3 linked regions of the Homo sapiens genome follow. The main gene of each other region encodes a partner of the protein of the gene in region 3 in a complex. Each region holds a gene or a part of one and is shown on either strand. Other genes may lie near its edges. The genes, in order: EIF3J, EIF3K and EIF3I.

The links.
Region 1: EIF3I (region 3) and EIF3J share a complex: the UniProt entries of both Homo sapiens proteins name them as parts of the eukaryotic translation initiation factor 3 (eIF-3) complex.
Region 2: EIF3I (region 3) and EIF3K share a complex: the UniProt entries of both Homo sapiens proteins name them as parts of the eukaryotic translation initiation factor 3 (eIF-3) complex.

The regions. Positions count from the first base shown.
Region 1 is NC_000015.10:44,547,147-44,550,797, forward strand, and holds part of EIF3J (eukaryotic translation initiation factor 3 subunit J), read left to right. Parts: intron 1-3,651. UniProt on the Homo sapiens protein: Component of the eukaryotic translation initiation factor 3 (eIF-3) complex, which is required for several steps in the initiation of protein synthesis.
Region 2 is NC_000019.10:38,622,093-38,625,743, reverse strand, and holds part of EIF3K (eukaryotic translation initiation factor 3 subunit K), read right to left. Parts: intron 1,668-3,651; coding exon 1,547-1,667; intron 1-1,546. UniProt on the Homo sapiens protein: Component of the eukaryotic translation initiation factor 3 (eIF-3) complex, which is required for several steps in the initiation of protein synthesis.
Region 3 is NC_000001.11:32,228,673-32,232,172, forward strand, and holds the end of EIF3I (eukaryotic translation initiation factor 3 subunit I), read left to right. Parts: intron 1-54; coding exon 55-144; intron 145-462; coding exon 463-536; intron 537-2,254; coding exon 2,255-2,347; intron 2,348-2,442; coding exon 2,443-2,524; 3' UTR 2,525-2,932; downstream 2,933-3,500. UniProt on the Homo sapiens protein: Component of the eukaryotic translation initiation factor 3 (eIF-3) complex, which is required for several steps in the initiation of protein synthesis.

The sequences.
Region 1 (3,651 bases), on a different chromosome or scaffold from region 3:
TGACTTTTTTTTGTGAGACGGAGTTTCATTCTTGTTGCCCAGGCTGGAGTGCAATGGCGCGATCTCGGCTCACCACAGCCTCTGTCTCCTGGGTTCAAGCAATTTTCCTGCCTCAGCCTCCCGAGTAGCTGGGATTACAGGCATGTGCCACCACACCCAGCTAATTTTGTATTTTTAGTAGAGACGGGGTTTCTCCATGTTGGTCAGGCTGGTCTTGCATTCCCGACCTCAGGTGATCTGCCTGCCTTGGCCTCCCAAAGTGTTGGGATTACAGGCGTAAGCCGGCCTTGATTCTTTTTTTTTTTTTTTTTTTTTTTTGAGACGAAGTCTCGCCGCACTGTCACCTGGGCTGGAGTGCAGTGGCACAATCTTGGCTCACTGCAACCTCCCACTCCTGGGTTCAAGTGATTCTCCTGCCTCAGCCCCCAAGTAGTTGGGATTATAGGTGTCTGCCACCACGCCCAGCTAATTTTTTGTATTTTTAGTAGAGACAGGGTTTCACTATGTTGGCCAGGCTGGTCTCAAACTCCTGACCTCGTGATCCGCCCACCTCAGCCTCCCAAAGTGCTGGGATTACAGGCATGAGCCACGCACCCGGCCTGACTCCTTTTTAATAGTGGGCTTTAGAATTATATAGACTTAATTCATTAACCAGGCTTATGTTGTATGGAATACTACTTGAAATAAATGAGCTATTGGCCAGAGTATAGGATGCTTTTTACATTTGGGGGGAAGTAAGAACTATAAAGTTCTCTCAGTTTTTATTTATTAATAACTGAATCACTTTCAGAGAGGCTATTGATTTCAGCTAGGTTGTCCTAACTGCTAATGGAGAAGCTTTCTTATGAAGTTAGATAAGTTGATATGAGGGTTCATATGGAAAAACAAAACATGCAAGAAAGGCCAAGAAAACACTAAAAAATCTGAAAACCTACAAGGAAGGACTAGCTCTAGCTGACATTAAAGTAAAGCCTCTGTAATTAAAACAGTACCGGCTGGGCATGGTGGCTCACGCCTGCAATCCCAGCACTTTGGGAGGCTGAGGATCACCTGATGTCAGGAGTTCGAGACCAGCCTGGTCAACATGGAGAAACCCCGTCTCTACTAAAAATACAAAAATTAGCCCGGCATGATGGTGGACACCTGTAATCCCAGCTACTCCAGAGGCTGAGGCTGGAGAGTCACTTGAACCCAGGAGGCAGAGGTTGCAGTAAGCTGAGATCGCGCCATTGCACTCCAACCTGGGCGACAAGAGTGAAACTCCGTCTCAAAAAACAAGACCAAAAAAACCCAGTATGGTACCGTTATATGGAGAGACAGTAGACTAGTGGGATAGGATCAAAAGCCCAGAAATAGACCAAGTACATATGAAAATTTAGTATATGGTAAGTCACAAGGTATCTTAAAATGTTTTTTGCTGCAATAGAATGCAATAGACTGGGTATTGTATAAACAACAGATTTATTTCTTATGGTTATGGAGGCTGAGAAGTCCAGTATCAAGGTGCTGGCATCTGGCGAGGGCCTTCTTGCTCTATTATCCTGGGGCAGAAGGGCAAAAGAGCACAAAGGATTGCAGGAGGTGTCAGAACTCATCCTTTTATCAGATATCTACTCCTAATATAAAGGTATTAATAATTCATTCATGAGGGCTTTGCCTCTAATCATTTCTAAAAGACCCTACTTCTCAACACTGTTGGATTGGAGATTTCATCACATGAACTTTGGAGGACACATTCAAACCATAGCCCAGGGAAAAAAACCATTATTTATTAAAGGGTTTTTAATAAATGATGCTGTGACAACTGGGTAGCCATTTGGGAAAAAAATGAAATTAGATCCATGTTGCATATCATAACACAAGAAAAAAACTCCAAATCAGAGATCTAAATAAAAAAAAAAATGAAACCCTATACATTCTAGAAGAAATTGTGGGTGAATTCTTAGGTGTAAGAAAAGACTTTCTGGCTGGGCGAAGTGGCTCATGCCTGTACTCCCAGCACTTCGGGAGGCTGAGGTGGGCGGATCACCTGAGGTTGGGAGTTCGAGATCAGCCTGACCAACATGGACAAACCCCATCTCTACTAAAAATACAAAGTTAGCCAGGCATGGTGGTGCATGTCTAATCCCAGCTGCTTGGGAGGCTGAGGCAGGAGAATTGCTTGAACCCGGGAGGTGGAGGTTGTAGTGAGCCTAGATCATGCCATTGCACTCCAGCTTGGGCAACCAGAGCAAAACTCCAACTCAAAAACAAAACAAAACAAAACAAAACAACAAAAAAACAAGAAAAGACTTTCTAATTGACTTGAAATCCATCCAGAGGCAATGAAAGAAAAGACTGGGGCTAGGCACGGTGGCTCACGCCTGTAATTCCAGCACTTCGGGAAGCCGAGGCGGGCGGATCATGAGATCAGGAGTTCGAGACCAGTGTGACCAACATGGTGAAATCCTGTCTATACTAAAAATACAAAATTAGCCAGGCATGGTGGCATGTGCTGGTAATCCCAGCTACTCGGGAGGCTGAGGCAGGAGAATCACTTGAACCTGGGAGGCAGAGGTTGCAGTGAGCTGAGATCGTCCCTGTATTCCAGCCTGGGCGACAGAACGAGACTCCGTCTCAAAAAAAAAAAAAAAAAAAAAAAAAACCATTTCTACTAAAAATAAATGAGCCAGGCATGGTGGTGTATGCCTGTAATCCTAGTTACTGGGGAGGCTGAGGCAGGAGAATCGCTTGAACCTAGGAGGTGGAGGTTGCAGTGAGCTGAGATCGTGACATTGCACTCCAGCCTGGGCAAGAAACTCCGTCTCAAAAAAAAAAAAAAAGTCTGGTAAATTTTATTGCATAAATTTGTTGGGATGCATAGCAATTCATGGGGAAACAATAGAGGCATTTCCATCAAGAAAGCAAGGATGCCCATTACTTCTGCTGCTGTTCAACATTGCACTAGAGGTTTAGCTGGCCCAATTAGGTAAATCACTTGTGAGGGCCTAAGGATTGGTAGAGAAGTAAAGCTATCTTTTGTTTGCAGATAAGGTAGCATACCTGTAAAACCCTAGAGAAGCAACGATAAATCTAACTTAAGTGATAAATGAATTCAGTAAGGTAGCAGGATATTAACATATAAAAAAGCCAATAGTCATTTTTGTTTATTTGTTTTGAGACAGGGTTTTTATGATAGTGAGTTGCCTAGGATAGAGTGCAGTGGCACTATCATAGCTCACTGCAGCCTTAACCTCCTGGGCTCAAGTGATCTTCCCACCTTAGCCTCTCAAGTAGCTGAGACTACAGGCACATGCCACGTTGCCCAGTTAATTTTTTAATTTTTTTTTTTTTTGCAGAGACTGGGTCTTGCCGATAGGTTTTTATACACAAATAATAGCCACCTAGAGGACATAATAGGAAAACACCCTATTTATAATAGCAACATACAAGATGAAATACTTAGGAATAAATCTAAAGAGAAATGCGCAGAGCCTCTAATAGGGAAATCACTTTAAAACACTTCTGAAAGGTACAAAAATGTACTTGATCAAATGGAAAGACAGTTCTTATTCTTGGTTAGGGCAGCTCAGCATTATAAGATGTCAATTCCCCCTACATTAATTTATAAATTTAATGCAGTACAAAAAAATACCAACAAACATTTCTCTG
Region 2 (3,651 bases), on a different chromosome or scaffold from region 3:
GAGGTCAGGAGTTCGACACCAGCCTGGCCAACATAGCGAAACCCCATCTCTACTAAACATACGAAAAGCAGCTGGGTGTGGTGGCACGTGCCTATAGTCCCAGCTACTTGGGAGGCTGAGGCAGGAGAATCACTTGAACCCGGGAGGAGGAGGTTGTAGTGAGCCAAGATCACGCCTTTGCACGCCAGCCTGGATGACAGAGCAAGACTCCATCTCAAAAAAAAAGAAAATATTAACAAAAAAACCCTACTATTATTACTAATAAAATAAAACCTATAGGCTGGGCACGGTGGCTCACATCTGTAATCCTATCACTTTGGGAGGCTGAGGCGGGTGGATCACCTGAGGTCAGGAGTTCGAGAGCAGCCTGGCCAACATAGCAAAACCCCGTCTCTACTAAAAATACAAAAATTAGCTGGGCGTGGTAGCATGCATGCACCTGTGGTCCCAGCTGCTCAGGAGGCTGAGACAGAATAGCTTGAACCTGGGAGGTGGAAGTTGCAGGAAGCCGAGATCACGCCACTGCACTCCAGACTGGGTGACAGAGCAAGGCTCCGTCTCAAAAAAAAAATAAAATAAATAAAATAAAACAACAACAAAAAAAAACCCACCTTAAATCATTCCTATGTCAGGCTTCCTCTACCATTCCTGAAAGACAGCACCGAGCTCTGCTTCCTTTAGCCCATGAGTGTCCTCTCTGCCTGGATCACCTTTGCCTACCCCTCCACCTAACTCGTTATGTTTTAGATGTTCCCTCCTCCAGGAGGCCCTGGTTTATAGTTTCTAGTTAAAAATACAGAAGAGTGAACAGTGGCAAAATAGGTCTTCCCTTCCCTGTCTCACAGCCATCCTTCCTGGGAGGTAACAGTCATTTCCAATTCTTGGGTACCTTTCCACCTTTCCAGACATTGTTCTATAGAATGTAAATACAGATGGCTGTGTTCATGTCCACATATTCCCCCACCCAAATGGTCAGGTGCCTACTCTGGCTCTTCTTTTTTTTTTTGAGACAGAGTCTCACTGTGTCACCCAGGGTGGAGTGCAGTGGCGCAATCTCGGCTCACTGCAACCTCCATCTCCCAGCTTCAAGTGATCCTCCTGCCTCAGCCTCCTGAGTAACTGGGACTATAGGTGTGTGCCACTGTGCCTGGCTAATTTTTTGTATTTTAATAGAGATGGGGTTTCGCCATGTTGGCCAGGCTGGTCTCGAACTCCTGACCTCAGGTGATCCACCCACCTTGACCTCTCAAAGTGCCGGGATTAGAGGCCTGAGTCATTGTGCCCGGCTGCTGTGACTCTTGTAACCCAACCCTGACCACTCCAGTCTATCACTGACTCTTCACTGGACTGCGACAACTTTGTGAAGACAGGGCCCAGGACTGTCTCAGTCACCAGTGTCCCAGCACTGTCCAGCACCTTGCCACGCTGGACCAGAGCAGGCACTTGTTGTTTGTGGATACACCCACAGACCATCTCCCTGGGAATTCATGCACCTTGACTCTGACCCCTTCCCACACACCCCCCGGCCCCAGTGCTGGAAGGATACATGTGCCTGGTCGATCATGCACTTGCACAGGGTGAAGTCTGTGTGCGGCAAGTTGGTGAGGGCCTTCAGCAGGATCTGGGCGGTGACCGTGGTCTGAAAGAAGGCTGGGTTGAACTGGTACCTAAGAAAAAGAACAAGAGACGTGGCCACAGTGGCACCTCCAAGTCCCCAATCCTCACCAGGTGCCAGGCAGCTGCTTTATTCTGGAGTTTGGGAATTGGACATGCCTGGGTTCCAATCCCAGTCCCAGTGCTTCCCAGCTGTGTAACCTTCACCTCCCTGAGCCTACCTTTCTCCTCTGTGAACAGGGACAGTTAATGCTCACAACTACCCAATGGGGCAGACACTGCTAAGTGATTTATAAACAAATGAGAACAGCAGCAGTGGTCTGGAGTAGTGGCTAAGGAACCAGAGCCAGACTGCCTCGGTTTAAACTTCCCTGCTGAGTGACCTTGGACTGCTTATTTATGACACGAGGAGCAGAGAAGAGAGAGATTAAGAGGCACTGAAAGGCTGAGGAGCAGAGAAAGGAAACTGAGGGGCTGACGGTTTCCTCCCTTGCAAAAGAGGACAACAGAAGGTGGCGGTGGGGGTGGGTAGGTGGGTGGCTCAAGCCTGTAATCCCAGCACTTTGGGAGGCCGAGATGGGCGGATCACCTGAGATCAGGAGTTCGAGACCAGCCTGGCCAACATGACAAAGCCCCGTCTCTACTAAAAATACAAAAATTAGGCTGGGTGCAGTGGCTCACGCCTGTAATCCCAGCACTTTGGGAGGCCAAGGCGGGTGGATCACCTGAGGTCAGGAGTTCGAGACCAGCCTGGCTAACATGGCAAAACCCTGTCTCTACTAAAAATACAAAAATTAGCTGGGTATGGTGGTGCGTACCTGTTGCGGGAAGTCAGGGACCCCAAACGGAGGGACCGGCTGAAGCCATGACAGAAGAACGTGGATTGTGAAGATTTTATGGACATTTATTAGTTCCCCAAATTAATACTTTTGTAATTTCTTATGCCTGTCTTTACTGCAATCTCTAAACATAAATTGTAAAGATTTCATGGACACTTATCACTTCCCCAATCAATACCCTTGTGATTTCCTATGCCTGTCTTTACTTTAATCTCTTAATCCTGTCAGTTGAGGAGGATGTATATCGTTCCAGGACCCTGTAATAATTGCGTTAACTACAAAAATTGCACAACATGTGTGTTTGAGCAATATGAAATGTGGGCACCCTGGAAAAAGAACAGGATAACAGCAATTGTTCCGGGAATGAGAGAGAGAACCTTAAACTCTGACTGCCGGTGAGCCGGGCAGAACAGAGCCATATTTCTCTTCTTTCAAAAGCAAATGGGAGAAATATCGCTGAATTCTTTTTCTCAGCATGGAACGTCCCTGAGAAAGAGAATGCGCACCTAGGGGTAGGTCTCTGAACGGGCCCCCCGGGGCGTACCTGTCTCTTATAGTCGAGATTGCAGAGGTGAAATAAACTCGTCTCCCATAGCGTTCCCAGGCTTATTAGGAAGAGGAAATTCCCGCCTAATAAATTTTGGTCAGACCGGTTGATCTCAAAACCCTGTCTCCTGATAAGATGTTATCAATGACAGTGGTGCCCAAAACTTCATTAGCAATTTTAATTTCGCTTTGATCCTGTGGTCCTGTGATCTCGCCCTGCCTCCACTTGCCTTGTGATATTCTATTACCCTGTTAAGTACTTGATGTCTGTCGCCCACACCTATTCGCACACTCCCTCCCCTTTTGAAAATCCCTAATAAAAACTTGCTGGTTTTTGTGGCTTGTGAGGCATCACGGATCCTACCAATGTGTGATGTCTCCCCCGGACGCCCAGCTTTAAAATTTCTCTCTTTTGTACTCTGTCCTTCTATTTCTCAAGCCAGCCAATGCTTAGGAATATAGAAAAGAACCTACGTGATTATCGGGGCAGGCCCCCCGATACGTACAGCTACTTAGGAGGCCGAGGCAGGAGGATTACATGAACCTGGGAGGCAAAGGATGCACTGAGTTGAGATCATGAGATCACGCCAAGGCACTCTAGCCTGGGCAAGAAGGTGAGACCCTGTCTCAAAAAAAAAAAAAAAAGGAAAGA
Region 3 (3,500 bases):
CGACTTCCCCCAGGAAAGCTCTTTACAGATTTCCCCCCTGCCTTCTCTCTCCAGCTTTTTGACTCCACAACTCTTGAACATCAGAAGACTTTCCGGACAGAACGTCCTGTCAACTCAGCTGCCCTCTCCCCCAACTATGACCATGTAAGAGAACCCCACCTGCCTTCCTGCTGAAGCCTCAGGAAGCTTCCAAGTTCTAGATGCTTGTCCAGAAGTTGGGCTACAACATTGTGGGGGAAATGATGTCAGGCAGAGAGGAGATGCCCAGAGGAGTGACAAAGCTGGAAGGATTGAATAGCCCCAGGGCAGCCAGCAGGAGGTGGCAGAAGTGTCTGATCATCCCCTACCTTTGGTATCCTCCCATTGAGCCGTGTGAGATGTTAAAAATGTATATGGCAGCAGAAAAACACAAAATGGACTTGGTGTCCATTGGTCCCATCTAGAGTTTCTTCTTCCATTCAGGTGGTCCTGGGCGGTGGTCAGGAAGCCATGGATGTAACCACAACCTCCACCAGGATTGGCAAGTTTGAGGCCAGGTAAAGAAGAAGAGAGCTCTTCCAAATTAAAATCTCATGTGGTGTACCTTTTTTGTTTGTTTTTGTTTTTGAGATGGAGTCTCGCTCTGTCGCCTAGGCTGGAGCGCAGTGGCGTGATCTCTGCTCACTGCAAGCTCTGCCTCCCGGGTTGACGCCATTCTCCTGCCTCAGCGGCCCAGGCGCCCACCACCATGCCTGGCTAATTTTCTTTTTGTATTTTTAGTAGAGACGGGGTTTCACCGTGTTAGCAAGGATGGTCTCGATCTCCTGACCTCGTGATACGCCCGCCTCAGCCTCCCAAAGTGCTGGGATTACAGGCATGAGCCACCGTGCCCAGCCTTTTTTTTTTTTTTTTTTTTTGACACGGAGTCTTGCTCTGTCACCCAGGCTGGAGTGCAATGGCGCGATCTCTGCTCACTGCAACCTCTGCTTCCCGGGTTCAAGCAATTATCCTGCCTCTGCCTCCTGGGTGGCTGGGATTACAGGCACCCATGACCACGCCTGGCTAATTTTTGTATTTTTAGTAGAGACAGGATTTCACCATGTTTGCCAGGCTGGTCTTGAACTCCTGGCCTTAAGTAATCCGCCCACCTTGGCCTTCCAGAGTGCTGGGATTACAGGCATGAGCCACTGTGCCCAGCCTTCATTATATTTCTCTATGTCTAAATTTCCTCTACTGTATAATGAGACAATGACAATATACTTAACATAAAATTATGCAGATTAAATTATTCAGTTAATATTTATTAAGCTCTTTAAGCACTGCCCAGCACATAGTAGGCACTCTATAAGTATTAGTTATGTATTCAGGCAGACATCTGGGTCCAGTCTTCCCCATATAATAAAAAAGTTAAAAAAGTAAGAGACAGGGTCTCACTATGTTGCCCAGGCTGGCCTCGAACTCCTGGGCTCAAGCAATCCTCTGTCCTCAGCCTCCCAAAGTGCTGGGATTACAGGCGTGAACCATGGCACGCAGCCACCAATTTCCATCTTATTTTGTTCACATTCACTTCTTATCTCAATTTTTCTGCTTTATTATTATTATTTTTTGAGACAGGGTCTCACTCTGTTGCCCAGGCTGGAGTGCAGTGGCACCATCTCTGCTCACCGCAACCTCCTGGGCTCAAGCGATCCTTCTACCTCAGCTTCTGAGTAGCTGGGATTACAGGTACATGGCCACCGTCCCTGGCTGCTTTTTGTATTTTTAGTAGAGATGTTGGCCAGGCTGGTCTCAAACTCCTGGCCTCAAGTGATCCACCCGCCTCGGCCTCCCAAAGTGTTGGGATTACAGGCGTGAGCCACTGCGCCTCGGCTTCTGCTTTATTTTTTGTGATACAATTTGCATTTGAGGCCAGGTGTGGTGGCTCATGCCTGTAATCCCAGCACATTGGGAGGCTAAGGAAGGCGGCTTGAGGCCAGGAGTTCGTAACCAGCCTGGCCAACATGGTGAAACCCCATCTCTACTAAAAATACAAAAATTAGCCAGGCATCTGTAATCCCAACCACTCAGGAGGCTGAGGCAGGAGAATTGCTTGAACCCAGGAGGGGGAGGTTCCAGTGAACCGAGATTGCGCCACTGTACTCCACCCTGGGTGACAGAGTAAGACTCCATCTCAAAATAAATAAATAATAATAACAATTTGCATTTGGGGAGTGCCACCTCCAAAGTGTTTTGGAAGAAGATAGAAAGTGAATTAATTGTGTCCCTTTTCCTCCAGGTTCTTCCATTTGGCCTTTGAAGAAGAGTTTGGAAGAGTCAAGGGTCACTTTGGACCTATCAACAGTGTTGCCTTCCATCCTGATGGCAAGAGGTAGGGTACCAGTGAAGCAGCTGACCTAAGCCTGGGTTGGGTCTCTGCCTTTCCCAGAGTAAGCACCTGACTGGTGCCTGGCTATCTTTTTCCAGCTACAGCAGCGGCGGCGAAGATGGTTACGTCCGTATCCATTACTTCGACCCACAGTACTTCGAATTTGAGTTTGAGGCTTAAGAAGCTGGATCTCCTGCCGGGCGTGGTGGCTCATGCCTGTAATCCCACCACTTTTTTTTTAAGGCAGGCGGATCACCTGAGGTCAGGAGTTTAAGACCAGCCTGACCAACATGGAGAAACCTCGTCTCTACTAAAAATACAAAAATTAGCCAGGCATGGTGGCACACGCCTATAGTCCCAGCTACTCAGGAGGCTGAGGCAGGAGAATCACTTGAACCCAGGAGGCAGAGGTTGCAGTGAGCTGAGATCACGTCATTGCACTCCATCCTGAGCCACAAGAGCAAAACTCCGTCTCAAAAAAAAAAAAGAAGAAGGTGGATCTCCAACCAGGCCAGAGAAGATTCTCACAGAAGGTTTTGAACTCTAAGAAATAAATTGGTTTGGTAATAAATGGCTTCTGGTCAGATATTTTGTGGTGTCTGTTTCATCATTTTTCCTTTTCACTGACACCCCAGCAAGCTGATGCTGATCATGGAGACTTTTATTATTGAGACCTCCCTATACTTTGGACACTTCAAACTTAAGACCCTCAGTACTTTTGGCTAACCTGGGTTGCAGGCACCCTCATCCAAGGTGTAAAGGTCCTAAGGGGCCTGCAGAGGTTTCAGGAACATCTCAGCTGCTATCCAAGGAGCCAGTGCTTAGAATAGGGGCTCGGCTGAAGCAGTTGGCTGAGAGGCTTCTGTCTTCTCCCTTCCTGTCACTATTTGCCACACTCTTCCCCCATGCAGCTTCTGCAGGCTCAGGTGAGCAGGTCCAGCGCAGAAACAGGCCTGAGGAGGAGGAAGACAGGTCAGGACGCTGAGCAGAGGGGTAATACCCAGGGGAGAAGGTGTGGAGCTCACCTTGCCACAGCCGCAGGCTCTGGGGCTCCACAGATGGCCAAGGGATTGAGGAGGTAGAGTGGGTTCTGGAGTCTTTGTTGCTCTTTTGGCTGGTTGAGCCCAGACCACAGGGAGTGCATCTGAGTCCTCCC